2 linked regions of the Homo sapiens genome follow. The protein of the gene in region 1 interacts with the protein of each later gene in a pairwise test. Each region holds a gene or a part of one and is shown on either strand. Other genes may lie near its edges.

What was found. The genes of interacting proteins can lie anywhere in the genome.
Region 2: the proteins of DLGAP3 (region 1) and SHANK2 interact in a two-hybrid assay, tested with the Homo sapiens proteins (one study listed by BioGRID).

Annotation. Positions count from the first base shown.
Region 1 is NC_000001.11:34,864,491-34,871,259, reverse strand, and holds the end of DLGAP3 (disks large-associated protein 3), read left to right. Parts: intron 1-2,170; coding exon 2,171-2,655; intron 2,656-3,632; coding exon 3,633-3,724; intron 3,725-4,068; coding exon 4,069-4,212; intron 4,213-4,958; coding exon 4,959-5,177; 3' UTR 5,178-5,824; downstream 5,825-6,769. UniProt on the Homo sapiens protein: May play a role in the molecular organization of synapses and neuronal cell signaling. Could be an adapter protein linking ion channel to the subsynaptic cytoskeleton. May induce enrichment of PSD-95/SAP90 at the plasma membrane.
Region 2 is NC_000011.10:70,479,214-70,487,267, forward strand, and holds part of SHANK2 (SH3 and multiple ankyrin repeat domains protein 2), read right to left. Parts: coding exon 6,101-8,054; intron 1-6,100. UniProt on the Homo sapiens protein: Seems to be an adapter protein in the postsynaptic density (PSD) of excitatory synapses that interconnects receptors of the postsynaptic membrane including NMDA-type and metabotropic glutamate receptors, and the actin-based cytoskeleton.

The DNA.
Region 1 (6,769 bases):
GGGGAGATGAGGTTGAAGAGGAGGACTGTGTCCAGGACATCAGGGCCTCAGATAATGCTGGTACAGGAAGTCTGAACTTTGTCTTGTTGGTAGTAGGGGGCTGTGGAAGGGTTTTGAGCAGGGGAATGACTTGGCAGAGCTCAGCTTTAGGAAGACTATTCCAGTCTTGGGTGGACTGGGGAGGGCCCCAGATCTTAAAATATGCAAAATATAATTTTAGAGAGAGGAACTACCTTGGCAATTACTTATCTATTTCTATAATTGTATATATGTGTGTATTTTTAGATGTATATGTGTGTATATTTATATCTAATACATATATTTTAAATACATACACACATACACATTGGATGACCTAGATGGAGGGTGAGTGACAAAGGCACACAGTGAGAAAGCCAGCATTAGAACTCAGAGCTAACTCCTGGCCCCGTGCTCTTCCTCTGCAGGGTACTGATGGAGGCAGAGGTATCTGAAAGGAGGCCAGTCTAATCATCAGGGCAGATGGTGATGCAAACCTTGACCAGGGCAGGACAGGGCAGACACTGAGGGGAAGACTGTGTGGGAGGCAATGAGGATATGTTCTCTCTCCTTCTCCCTCTCTGGGTGGGGGTTGGGACATAGGGCTCGTTGGAGACTGCACATGAGTGCATCTCTCCTTCCTGGGTCCTGCAGCATCCTTCTGGGCCTGGTTTCTATGGCAACAGGCTCCCAGCAGGCAGCCTGCCAGCTGGAGAGAAGTAGGCAGGCAGGCAGGGAGAGAAGGCCTGGGCAGCAAGAGAAAGGCTGAAGTTGCGGGGGTTGGGAGAGTCTCTTGGGGAGGTGGAGGGACCCTAGAGCTGGGCCCACAATCCCTTCTGACCATGTAGGGGTGGAGGTAGCTCAGGACACACAGGCTTTTCTTTTGTGGTCCTTGAATTTCCAAACCTTGATCTTCTGTTTATCCCCCACCTCCCACATCTCCTGACTCCCACTTCTTAAAGTATTGCCTGGTCCCAACCTCATGCATCTTAAGCGGCCACTGACTTCTTTATAGAAAAGAACTCTGAATTCAGGGAAAAAATGAAAACGGCCAGTTGACTTTTTGGTTTGCATAAGATTTGCATATTATTAACTCAAAGACAAGAAATTTCCAGGCCCTATGTCATTCCTGCAAACAACTTAATTCAGCTCCACTGGCACTGACTTACTGTGTCTGGCCAGGCTCTGGGCTGAGCCATCGGGGTCCCTAGAGAAGTCCTCCCAGCTGCAGGCCCACTCCACCTCCAGCTGCTCCAAGGCATTTCTTCCTGTGATGTTCTAGCAGCTGGTGCAGTGGGAAGTGCTTGGACTGTGGAGCCCAGCAGCGCTGAGTCCAAATCCTGGCTCTGCTACTTTGAAGCTGGGTTTACTTAGTTTACTCATCTCTAGGTAGAGCTGAGGACACTCTAGTGCAGCTGGTGTAAACTAGCATAGACATAGAATTTGTTAAAATATTGAAATACTTCGGCCAGGCGTGGTGGCTCACACCTGTAATCCCAGCACGTTGGGAGGCCAAGGCGGGTGGATAACCTGAGGTCGGGAGTTCGAGACCAGCCTGACCAACATGGAGAAACCCTGTCTCTTCCAAAAAGAGACAAAAGGCGCATGCCTGTAATCCCAGTTACTCGGGAGGCTGAAGCAGGAGAATCGCTTGAACCCGGGAGGCGGAGGTTGCGGTGAGCCGAGATCGCGCCATTGCACTCCAGCCTGGGCAACAAGAGCAAAACTCCATCTCCAAAAAAAAAAAAAAAAAAAAAAAAATTGAAATATCTTCTGCCTTCACTGGTAAAGAGCCACCACCCTGGCTCCTCCCTGACCCCTCTAGCCCACCCCACAATCTAGCCTCTCCAGGGCACTGCTGCAGCATTTTGGTCTGTGCCTGCTCTGCCTGGTATATGCCAGCATCTGCTCTGTCCATGGACTGAACTGGTTGCTAAATAGCTTGGATATCACCCCTATCTAGAGGCAGTGCAATAGGTAGGTATATTATGTACGTAGCTGTTGCAAGGACCAATATATTTAAAGTGCATAGGTTAATGTCCATCACTTTGTAGGTTCCCTTTCTCATTCCCTTCCTTTTTTTTGCTTGGGGTGGGGGTGAGAGCTGGCATGAGCCTGGGCAATGGGGGATGACAGCCACCCCTCTCCCCAGGCGAGCAAGGTTCAAGCGCTCCAATAGTGTGACGGCTGGCGTGCAGGCAGACCTGGAGCTGGAGGGCCTGGCAGGCCTGGCCACGGTGGCCACAGAAGACAAGGCCCTGCAGTTTGGACGCTCCTTCCAGAGGCACGCCTCTGAGCCCCAGCCTGGGCCCCGGGCCCCCACCTACTCAGTCTTCCGCACGGTCCACACGCAGGGCCAGTGGGCCTACCGCGAGGGCTACCCACTGCCGTACGAGCCGCCGGCCACCGATGGGTCGCCCGGCCCTGCCCCCGCCCCCACCCCCGGCCCTGGGGCCGGCCGCCGTGACTCCTGGATAGAGCGCGGTTCACGTAGCCTCCCCGACTCAGGCCGCGCATCCCCCTGCCCACGCGACGGCGAGTGGTTCATCAAGATGCTGCGGGCAGAGGTGGAGAAGCTGGAGCACTGGTGCCAGCAGATGGAGCGTGAGGCGGAGGACTATGAGCTACCCGAGGAGAGTGAGTCACGGCATCGGAACAAGGGGACTCTGGGGACCATGGCCTCGTGTGTGCTCAGGAGACCCTGATGGGGGTGGCTGGGGCTGCAGTGTAACAGGAGGCCCCTTCGGTTGGTGCCTCACTGGTCTTCTGCACTGGAGCGTGGCGGGTCAACATCGGCAGCAAGACATGCTGGGAGCTCTTGAAAGGGAGCAGGGTGCACATGGTGCAGCTTTAGAGGCCAGGGCTGGGACTGCAGACACTGCAGGCCAAAGGGCTGGGCCTTCTATGGATGGCTGCTAGTCCAAATCACCAAGTTTATGGGGACTAAGGGAACTCCGTTCAGATCTGGACTGGTGTGGGGATCCAGGTGGTGCGACCAAGATTACAGAGAGGGAGGCAGTTCACAATGTCAGATCCTGTCTGAGGCACAGAAGAGGGAGATTCAGCCAGGGAGATGTGGCCCTGGCCCGAGGGAGAGCATGGCCCTTCCTGTAAGTCAGATCCACTGGGAGACACAGTCTTACCCCAGAATCTCTGAGTTGAGGGGACAGTGGCTATGAAGATGTGTTATGTACATGAAATTACTTGGTCATTCTTAAAGAGCCAAGGAGTCTTGCATGCACTGGGGAGTGATGAACAAAGCTTAGCCAGTGGGTGGTCATTGAGCTAATGCCCTGGCCAAGGCTATAGGGCTAGGCTGGGGCTGGTTTCCGTCTGTTCTCTGATACGGGAGGGAGAAAGGATAAAGAAGGATGAGCACTCAAGAAATGTAGGCTGTATGAAGGAGGGAACATCAGTGTCTGAGGATACAGTCTTGGTGTAGTGGAGCGAGAACTTGTTAGGAACTTGAGGATGGGATGGGGCTGGGGCTGGAGGAGACTGATGGATACACAGTGCCAAGCAACCGAGGGGTCAGCGTCATTCAGGGCAGACTTCGTGGAGGCTGGGGAAGGAGATGCATCATTTCCCTCCCTGAATTTCCTTCTGCTTTCTAGTCCTGGAGAAGATCCGCAGTGCTGTGGGCAGCACACAACTTCTCCTGTCCCAGAAGGTTCAGCAGTTCTTCCGGCTGTGTCAGCAAAGCATGGTGAGTGCCCATAGTAGTAGATCCTACCAGATACATGTGACCCAGAGTGTGTGTGTGCTGGAGGTGAGACAGGCAGGTGACCCAGAGTGAGTGTGTACCAGAGGTGAGACCAGGCCTGCATGCCTTCTGGGGTAGCTGTGAGTCTTGTGCCTGGAGGTAGGACCAGGTGTTTGTGCACAAGAAGGGGAGTCCTGGGCTCGCTCTTGTCCCCCTGTCTCCCAGCCCCCACCCACTCTCCCAGGCTGAGCTTCCTGGCAGTAAGGGTGGATAGGACTTTCTCTTGTCCTGGCTGGGGCTCAGACCTCCTTGACCAATCACTTTCCCTCCATCTTCCTCTGTTGCAGGATCCCACTGCGTTCCCTGTGCCCACCTTCCAGGACCTGGCGGGTTTCTGGGACCTCCTACAGCTCTCCATCGAGGATGTGACCCTCAAGTTCCTGGAGCTACAGCAACTCAAGGCCAACAGCTGGAAACTCCTGGAGCCTAAGGTGGGGCTGGGGTGCCTTCAGGCAAAGAGGCCAGACTCTGGGAAATTCCCCTCCCCAGAGAGGTGGAGGGTGGGACGAACAAGGGGGCAGGGGAAGGGATCCATGGGCAGCAAGGGCAGCCTTGGACAGGTGATAGGTGACCATCCCCTTCCAGAGTGACCACGCTCGTGGCCACTGCCGTCTGCTTGGCCCCAGTGCTCATCACTGCTTGAGCTGCCAGAACCCCAAGGCTTCCTCAGCGCGGGGGAGCGGGGTTGGGGGGGTGGCGGCGGCTGCAGCTGGAGAGAGCAAAAGTAGACCTTACGGAAGGACAGACTGTCCTCAGTTCGGGCCTAGGCATCGACGGCAGAGCCTTGAGGGTCCCCTCAGCCGCCAGGTCCCTGGACCTTGTCTGCGATGAGGGCCAGAGGCCTGGTATGTGCACCCTCATTGCGGAGCCTGGGTCGGGAACTCCCTCCTTCGGGTCGGGACCCGGAGTGAAAAACCGGCTCTGCTGCGAGCTGTTGAGAACGGCGCCACCAGGGGGCGCTCGAACGCGCCGCGCTTTGGTGGAAAATGTGGGGATTTGACCTTGTCGGAACAGGAGCACCTGGGGCTTCAGGTCACGGGATCCGTGGCGGATTCTGAGCGCCATCGCGTTCGGAGCCACGCGGTCGTCAGCACTCTGGGCGCGGGGGTGCGGGGGCGGACACCTGGGTGTTGGGATGGTTCGGCGCCCCAGCTCAGCGACGCCCTCTGCCCCGCAGGAGGAGAAGAAGGTCCCTCCGCCGATACCAAAGAAGCCCCTGCGGGGCCGGGGCGTGCCGGTGAAGGAGCGCTCCCTGGACTCCGTGGACCGGCAGCGGCAGGAAGCGCGCAAGCGGCTCCTGGCGGCCAAGCGCGCCGCTTCCTTCCGCCACAGCTCGGCCACCGAGAGCGCCGACAGCATCGAGATCTACATCCCCGAGGCCCAGACCAGGCTGTGACCGGTCCGGCCCGCCCAGCCCGGCCCGGGCCCGCGGTTCTCCACCCGTACTGTACACCCAGCGTCGAGGTCACTGTGAACGCGGGCCGCCCCGTGCGCCCGCCCCACCGGCACCGGACGCCCCGGCCCCCGGGCCCGTCACACTCTCGTGGGTTTTTTACCTTCCTGATCCCACGCGAAGGCGCCCGGGCTGGGCAGGGGGCCGTGCCTCTCCGCCCTGCGCCCCTCACCTGGATCCCCTGCCCACCTGGTCCGACGCTTTGTCCCCACCTCCTCCCCATGGGCACCATCTCTGCCATTCTTTCCCCCACGGGCCAGGCCGGGCCGGGTCCCTCATCTGGGCTCTGCGTCCCCCCCTCCCCCACCCCGCGGGGCTGGGCTTCGTGGGGATCAAGCTTCGTGGCTTTTTATGAAGAATCCCGAACCCTGCCTAGGAGCCCGCCCCACCCTCCCAGGGGCTCCATCCTCAGCCCTCTGCCCACTGGGCCCAGGGACCACAGTGGCTGGACCAACCCAGGACCAGGGCGCCTGGGCCTCTCCCCTTTCCCAGCGGCTGGGGAGGGGAGATGGGGGCTTCCCCTCACCACACCTGTGGCTGTTCCCACATCCCCTTGAATATCCCAGGAAAAATAAAACGGCAGAACTGCACTCGAGCCAGCTGCTCTCTCCAGAAGAGGCCACCTCCGTCCCGTGTGTGGGAGGACGGGGGTGAAGGGAGAAGGGACCGGGAGCCCACTCTCTTGGTTTGGAGATAGCAGGGGTTGCCTGAGCTCCTTCCAGGGATGGGCCAGCTGGTGGAAAGGAGATTCGGCCCCCTGATGCCCACAGTAAGGGCCTGGACCCTCCTGGAGGGGCCCAGGTGGGGTGAAGAGGGGGAGGGTGCCAAGCTCTCCGTTCTTCCTATTTCGGTGTATCCCGTTCTGCCTCCCAGTCCGCAGGGTTCCCCCAGAGAGGGAAGTCCGGAGCTCGCCGGGCACGCAGCATGTGCTCAATAAACCGGGAGTGTGGTTATTGTTAGGTATTGACAAATAATTGGTTTCCCTTCCCCTAGGGGCACAATGTTCCTTCTGCTCCAGTCATTCCTGATCAGCAGCAGAAAATCTTCAGTCCTGCCGCATTTTCTGATGCCTCCTATGGGTGGCCACCTTGGTGGAGGCTGGGGTGGGGGAAGAGGAAGTACAAAGAACAGAGCTCTCCTGGGAAGCTAAATGGCAACCAGAACCTAGTATCGATGGCTTTATTGAGTGGTCAGTGTGGGTCAGGCAAGGGGTGAGTGCTTTACATGAATGTGGCTGGTCCTTACAATAGAAGAGAAAGCCAAAGCTCAGGGCAGGTTACAAGACCTGTCTGAGGTCACAGGACTAAATGTGGTGGACCCAGGTCTAATGCCAAATCATGAGCTTTTAGCTTTGCAGGCTTCTTAGACCAGAGAGGGCTGATGGCAGTCTCCACCCAGAAAGCCCCTTTCCACTCCTTGAGCAGTCCTTTGGGTTGGTGTGTCACCTCCAGGCAGGAGGAAAAGCCTTCAGGATTGGCTGCTTTTCTGGGCCACACTGGGTCAGCTAATTCTTCTCATTCATTTATCCAGCAGAC
Region 2 (8,054 bases), on another chromosome or scaffold:
TAGTGGTCCTGAGATGCTGAAAACACCGTGAGGCAGCTTCTAGTACCAAGTCAGTTTTGAAGCAGTCTGTGCTCTGGGACCAGCTGGGCAGAGATAACTTTTTAACAACCCAAAGTTATTTGAAAATCAAGAGGCTGTCAGGATAATACTGCAGAGAGCCCAGTAGGGACTGGAGGCCTTGGGAAGGGGAGGCAGGTACCGTGAGGCAGCAGGCGCAGGGGCCTCGGGAGGAAAACTCGCCTGAGCTCACATCCCAGGTAGCCTGAACTCCCTCAGGGGCCTCTGGGACCTGGAGTTTCACAGGACAAATCTCCCTGAAGCCCATCCATCCCATGGGGAAGCGAAGGCCAATCTCGAGGTCCCTTCTGGACCCCACCCACTGCAAAGGGCTGGCGACCTAGAGGGGACTCTGGGGAACTCTTATAGGCCATGCACCCTAACAGAAGCCATGGGGGACCCCCACAAGCACACACTCACTGCTCTGTTGCCCCCACATACAGAGCAAATGTGAAGCTGACCTCTGCCATGGAAGCGATGGTAAAGAACATCAGATTTATCTGGCTTTACTATCGGCGCCTGGTATGTGTCAGTATCTCTCAATAAAGCTGGAGGGCACATGACACCTGGGGCTCCTGGGTCATAGCAAGTTTGTTTTGGGTCAAAGCATATAAGTCAGGCAAGCTGCTGTGTTCTCCTGGGTTCCTTAGGCACTTAGCCCTTGAGTCTCCCTGCTTGTCTCCAGAATGCAGGCCCTACACTCCCACAGCAGCCTCCCTGTGCCACCAGTGCATTCACCTGATCACACAGCTGCCTGGGCCATCTTCAGGAAACAAAGTCTGGTCATGCCAAGACTTTGCTGAAGCCCTCTGAAGGCAGCCATATCTGGAACTCCATTCAGCTCATGCCCATTACCTGCAAGCCTCTTGTGACCTGGCCCTGCCCAGCCCTCCTCATCTGGCCATGGTTTCATGAGCACAGAAGGCACTTTCTGGCCTCAGGGCCTTGTACTCTCTGTCCCGTGCCTGGGATGCTCCACTCCTGGTTTTCTGCAAGGTTGGCTCCTTTTTAAATTTCTGGTCATTCAAATGTCATTTCCTTGCAGAGTGTCAGTCCCTTTCTGCACATGCTCACTGTAACCTGCTAGGGCATCCTAGTCCGCCCTTTCTGCATGTGGTCAGGGTTAACCTGCTGGTGTCCCGTGGCTCTCTTCTGCACGTGGTTATTTTTACCTGCTGGTGCATCACAGCCCCTTTCTGCACTGGTCACTAACCTATTAGCATGTTGTGGCTCCTTTGTGGCATTTGTCACAGTTTGGGTTTGTCTTATTATTTGTTGTCCATTTCTCCCCTCGAGAATTTGAGCTCCCCAAAGGGAGGGGCATCTGGAATGTTTTCTTGTTCAGTGATAAATCCTGGGCACAGCATGGCACCTGGCACATAAAGGCAATCCCTAACTTTGTTGAGTGAATGATTAGTGACGGAATTGCTGCCCCATTCTGAGGGTCCAGGCATCCTTGTTGGTGTATTCCTCGTTACTCTCTAGCCTCAGCCTGGCACTAGGCTTATAGAAAGTAGCTCAGTGAACTCCTGACTGGTGAATTCAGGAGACAGTGGGGCTGGGCCATGATTCCAAGTCTGAGTGTCCAGTCAGTCTCCTAGGCCTGCACCTGAGGAGCTTCCGGCTCTGAGCTTTTGCAGCCCCAGGCTCCTGTGCTGGGACCCCCAGCGTGCAGCACTGTCAGGCCTCTGGGCTGGCAGCTGTTGTCTTGGCATTCTGCTGAGGAGGGACCACTGACTCTTCACAGAGACACACTCACTCTTCCTTCCCCAAACCAGTTTCCTTCACTTTGATCCAGTTTGAGATCAAAGATGAGACTACCTCCTGGAATAATCAGGCCAGGTGGTCCTGGAACACTTTTCTTAGAACTGACGCCTCCATTCTTGGCAGGGTGTTTTCAGATCACCCTGGGAGATGCCTCTAATATGATGTACTTTTTTCTCTTTTAACATTATGTACTAAAGAGAACTACTTCATCATCTTCCTTTCGTCGGCGTATTTGTAATTAAGACGCCTGCAAATTCCATGTCATCCTTGATTTCAGGGAAGAGCTTTGAGCATCAGAGACTCATTCACGGCTAAAGTTAAATCAAACATACCCAAGGAAAACAAGGATCTAGTTGTTTAATCTTCAGCTGCTTCCTTTGATCCCATCCTGGATTCTTGCAAGAAGTGAAAAGAAAGGAAGAATCCAAGGATGAGAGGAACTTTAAAAGGGTCAAGTTCAGCTGAGGTTTCTGCCCATTTCATGAATGAACATTTGAGGAACAGCTCTAAAAATTGTCCCTTTCTTGGGCAGTCAAAACTTGTTTCTATGGAAATGGGATTTTTACACCACTGCTTATCTGTCATTTCAAAAAGCATGGCTGGTTTTCAATTTTCCCTAGAAAAACTCATTTCTTTTTCCTCGGTAGGAATTCCCTTCATCCAATTTCGTGCCTCATTTTGCCCAGGGCCATTCACAGCTCTTAATTTTTAGATGCATTTAAAGGTGGTGGTGAGTCGCCCAGGCGGTGAACTCAGGTGAGAGTTCTTAAGGCTCCCTCTGATCCTCAGATGATCAAATGCCCAGGGCCCATCAGTGAAGACCACGCCCAGCAAAGGAGACATGCTGAGAGATAGGTCTGTGGCTGAGAGGAGACAGCCCTCACGGCAAGGGGGACAGCTCTGGTGCCCTGGCAACTCCGTCCTGGACCCCCCCCCAGTGGTGGTTCTGACTGCCCCCCACTTGTCCTTGTCAGTGTGTCCCGTGGCCGTGGCGCACCTCCATGGGGGCTTTGTCCCAAGTGCTCAGCCTGGTGAGGTTATTAGATCCGAGAAGCAAGGGCGAGGGAGAGGATTGAGCCTAGTTTAGTGCCTACAGTGAATGCTCTTCATCTTTGTCCTCTGGCCTCAGGCCATCCTGTTTCTAGTCCAACTCTGAGTGTAAAGTGTAACCCTTGGCCGGGAGCAAGAAGGGAACAGACATGGCCTCTGGGAGCTTGGCAGTGCCAGTGAACCCCTAGTGACTAAGCCTGCTGTTATCGGCCGCAGGGTGACCTCCTAGTGACTAAGCCTGCTATTAGCCTCTTGCTGACCAAAGAGCTTGGCCTAAGGACAGTCAGAGGCCTGAGAGCAGCCCCGCCCGCGGCAGTCTCAGCCTTGCAGGTGTTCGGTTTGCCAGTTGGTCATTCCTTCCAAGGCAGTCCCTGGCTCCCACAAGGTGAGGAGTCAAACCCTGAGCCAGCTCCATGGGTTGGAGGTCTAGTTCCGCGTCTTCCTGTGAAGTAGCCTCGGCTCAGTAGCTTCACCGCCCTGCCTTCTGCTTCCTTGTTCACACAGTGGGAAAAATTACAGGCCCTGGCTCAGGGGTGCCGTGGAATGTAGTGCCTGGCGTTTGGTGAATGCTTTGTGTCATAGGTGTGGGCTCCTGTTCTTACTGTAAGAGAGCCGGGCTATAAATAACAGGACAGCTGGGAGGCGGCCGTTCTTGGCACTCACGCGTGGGTCGGCGGTGGTATGCAGCTGCTCTCCTTCAGAGTACAGCAGGATTCTGCCCTATGAAGTCTGCTTTGAGCCAGCCCCCTCTCAGGGTCCCCCTGGAGAAATGCAGGGCAGAGAAACCCTAGAGACGCTGCAAGTTGGGGTCCCACTCCCCTGTGGGCACCCCAGGAGCTGGCCCAGCCTGAAGACGAGTAGAGGGGATGAGCTGTCCAGCTGCCACTCAGGGAGAGGTCTCCATGGACGGGGTCCCTGGACTCCCCGAGTGGAGTGCTCAGGGGAGCACAGCTTGGTGCAGGATGCCCTGCTGACCTGAACAGTGGATTCCTTCCTCCAGCCCTAGAGCCATTCCCTTCCAGCTCCTTCCTTACTGCAGACATTGCTTACAAGGGGAAGTGAGAGTCAGGAAACCCCAGCCTGTGTCCCAGCTCTGCCTCCTGCTGGCTGTGTATGTGGACAAGCCACTTATCCTCTGAAAAATGGGTGTGACTCATACCTGCTCCCCAGTTGTCATAAAAATTACCCACCCATGAGAAAGTGTTTTGTAAAAATGTGAAACACTAAGATAAGGCCTCTTTAATTATTGCTTCCACATAGAGTAATGACGGAAGAGCCACATTAGTATGTAATGGGGAAGGGTTAAACTAGTCAGTTTTTCAGATTTTTGGCCCAGTGCAGTGACTCATGCCTGCAATCCCAGCACTTTGGGAGGCTGAGGTGAGTGGTTCGTTTGAGCCCAGGAGTTCGAGACCAGCCTGGGACACATGGTGAGACCTCATCTCTACCAAAAAAAAAAAAAAAAAAAAAAAAAATAGCTGGGTGTGGTGGCATGCGTCTATTGTCCTAGCTACTCAGGAGGCTAGGTGAGGTGTGAGGATTGCTTAAGCCCAGGAGGTCTAGGCTGCAAGGCTGCAATGAGCCGTGATCACGTCACAGCACTCCAGCCTGAGCGGCAAAGCAACACCCTTTCTCAAAATTCCTGGAGGCTGTTGAGTGTACTTGTAGGTGTATACGTACATAATTCTTAGACTTTCTCCTTGACTGGAGGCACTGTCTGAATGTCTGCAGTGTAACTGTGCTTCTCTATACCAATGCCAGCCTATCGATACTCCTTTAGAGTAATAGATGACATCCAAGTCATTTATTTACATCCACACTGAAAAATAACTGGGAAAATTGGGGCTCTCAGTCTGCATCTTGAGCCCCAGCTGTATGTGATGTCACTGATTAATGCACTGAGTGGCTTAAATCAAATGCCTGCCCAGCAGGGGTATGGAGAGAGGCTTCATTAGTCAAAATGATGAAACCCAAGATCAAATATCAGTGGGAGAGACTGAAGATGCTGCCACCTGGGGAACAGCAAAATGGTGCACACCACAGGGAAGGAGAACCAAGAACCATAAGCCATCACGGGAGCCAATGGGGCTCCCCAAAGCCACAGACTGCTGAGCCCTGATACGGTTTGGATCTGTGTTCCCACCCAAATCTCATATGTGAAATTGTAGTCTCCAGTGTTGGAGGAGGTGCCTGGTGGGAGGTGATCAGATCATGGTGGGGGAGTTCTCATGAACGGTTTAGCACCATCTTCCCTGGCTACTGTACATAGTGAGCTCTCATGAGATCAGGTTGTTTAAATAGACTGTGGTACCTCCCCCGACTCCCTCTTGCTCCCCCTTTGGTGATCACTGAAAGTTTCTTGAGGCTTCTCCAGAAGCCAAGCAGAAGCCAACATCATGCTTCCCATATAGCCTGCAGAACTCGAGCCAATTAAACCTCATTTTTTTATAAATTACCCAGTCTCAGCTATTTCTTTATAGCAGTGCAAGAATGATCAAATATAGGCTCCTTCCAGACAGCCTCAGATAGAGCCCTCTGGTTGCGTCTAGAAATGACTCCTGACTTATTCTACGTTCAGTTCCAATGGAAATAATGTAAACCCTGCACAATACTGTGAAGGGCTGACATGGACACAGCTAGAGGCTTCTGCCCCTGGGACAGGATGGGCTGGCAGGGAAGAATGTACTGCACTTAGAGTTCACCAGTACAGCCATGACCCTGTGCCTCCCAAGCCCGCAAACCTGGTAGTGATGGGAGGGGAAGAAGAACCCACACGTGTATTCAGACACCTGCACCCACCGCCCACCCACTCGCTGCCCTCTTGGGGCAGCTAGTCTCCTGCAACCAACTCGAAGCTTGGTTTGGGCTTTGGCGAGGCTCTAAACGGCCTTCTAGGTGGTCCTGGCAGAGATCTGGAGGGCACAGAAGAGAGAGTAGAGCTTCTCTTTGGAAGCCAAGGTGAGGAGGGCTTCCAGCAACCTCATTTCATTACAAGTCTTTATGAAGGAGTGCTGTGTCCCACCAGGATGGCTGTGATCATTACTCGGCTATCCCGGAGTCCAGGAGCATGAGAAAAAGAAGTGTTACTGCATTAACAGACGTGGCCCACACAGGCTTTACGAATTCCCCTCTTCGTGTCCGCTGGGGCTGCTACCCGAGGGCCTTTCCTGGTCAGCAGGGACAGTGCACGCAGAGCGGTGTGCATGTGCACCAACCGCGGACTTACCTTGGAGCGAGGCTGGCGGACTTGGCTCCCATTGGTGAATCCAGTCCTTCCCCCGGCTTTGCCAATTTCTCTCGGTTCATTTGCTGTAGGATAGAGTTCAATTCACTAATAACGTTTGCCTTTGGGCCTGAGAGAATCGGGCTTTTGATCTCTGTGACGTCGCCCCACAACTTGGAGGTCCTTGGCTGGAGAACCTTGGCCATCCCAGGCTGGGCACTGCCCGGCGGGGGCGGGGGAGCGGGCGGGGGGATAACAAAGCTATCTACATCTTCTTCCACGAGCGCGTCTTGATAAAGTGCATTGCTTTTGTGAATGATGGGCTTCATTTTTGGCTTAGGAGGTACTGGGGGTTTGTCAACCATAAATGCTTGCCCATCTGCATAGACTGTGCAGGTGTCCACATTCTCTCCACCTTCGGAAGACAGGGTGGAGATGCTAGACACGGTGGAGATAGTGCTGGTCGTCTCGAGGTGGTGGTCGCTGCTACTCCGGCTGTCCACCTCCTCGATCCCAGAGTCGGCGACGGCGTCAAAGCTTTCAGGGGGTGGCAGGAATGAGGCAGGCAGACAGTTTGAAAGACTGGCTGGCTTCTTGCTGTCTGCAGAGTTGGTTGGTTGGCTGGAGTTCAACGAAGGGGACTGAGGGGTGTCGCTTTTCTTCTGCTTCACTAAGTCTGAGAGAGCCGGGACAGAAGCTGCCCGGTCATCGGGGATATCAAAACTATTTGCAAATTCCAGGGGAGGAGGCAATGGCTCTGTAAAAATAAAATCCTCATCCAAGTCCACGGATGCCAGAGGGGGAGGAGGGATGCGGAATGGCAAAATCACCGCCTCTTCCATGGAGCCCACCGCGACGATGGTTCTGCCGGGCACGGTGGTGGGCTCGGGGGCAGCGGAGATCTGTAAAGCACCTTCGGTTTCGGAAACACCTTCTGGCACCTCGGACGGCGAGCTGTCTGGCTTCATCTCCACCTCTGCCTTCTCGTCCTCTTCCTGCAGGGCGTTGTCCAGCTTAGTGGCGTCCACGGTGTGCACCATCAGCAGGCCAGCCGACTTCTGCTGGGACGTGTCCATGATGTCGATCAGCATGTTCTTCTTGTCATCGCCTTTCCGGTCTCGGCCCAGGTCGGTCTCGTACTTGTTCTCCGTCTCCTGCCGCCTCAGGGGTCCCCGGGTGTTCTGCCTGGTGACCGTAGGGAAGCCGGCATCCAGGCTGGGCCGCATTTTGGTATCAATGTAAAGAGGTTTGTTGAGGTCGGCCTTGGGGGCCTCCCCTTTGGGTCCCTGTTGAGACTCCTTCATGGCTCGGTCCCTTGCGGAGAGTGCCAGGGCCAGCGGGGAGCTGGGATCAAGCAGCCGCCCTGTGAGTGGGTGGACATAATTCCCGGGGCCGGCTGTGCCGCTGCTCGCGGAGGGCACTGCTGGGCTGCTCTCGGGCCCCTGGGCTTTGGACGTGGAATTCAGCGGCCTCCCAGCCTCACCCGGAGCACTGGCCTCGGCGCCACCCACGAAATGGTTTTCGGGCTCCCTGGGCGTGGCACTCGGCATGGGGGATGACAGCTGCTCAGCGCTGTCCTCGTCAGCAAAATCCCCCTCCTCGGGGAACATGGAGGGCCGCGTCCTGGGGGCGGGTGGCCCCAGGCCCACATCCTCATCCCCCAGGTCTGTGGAGAGGAAGGCCGGGGAGTTCCTCCTGGCTTCCAGCCGCTTCTCACGGTCGCGGACGGCTCCGGCGATGGCGGCGGCAAAGGGGCTGCTGACGGTCAGGCTTTCGTCAGGCCGCAGCTGGCTCGGTGGCTCCGGGGCCTGGGGGTCGATCTCCATGCTGCTGCCCTGGCTGCTCTTGCCGCTGCTGCTGGTGGACGGCTCCTTCACGATGATGGTCGGGATAGGGATGGAGCACGTCTTCTCGGGGCTGTCCTCCACGTTGGACTGCTTCACCAGCATCCCCTTCC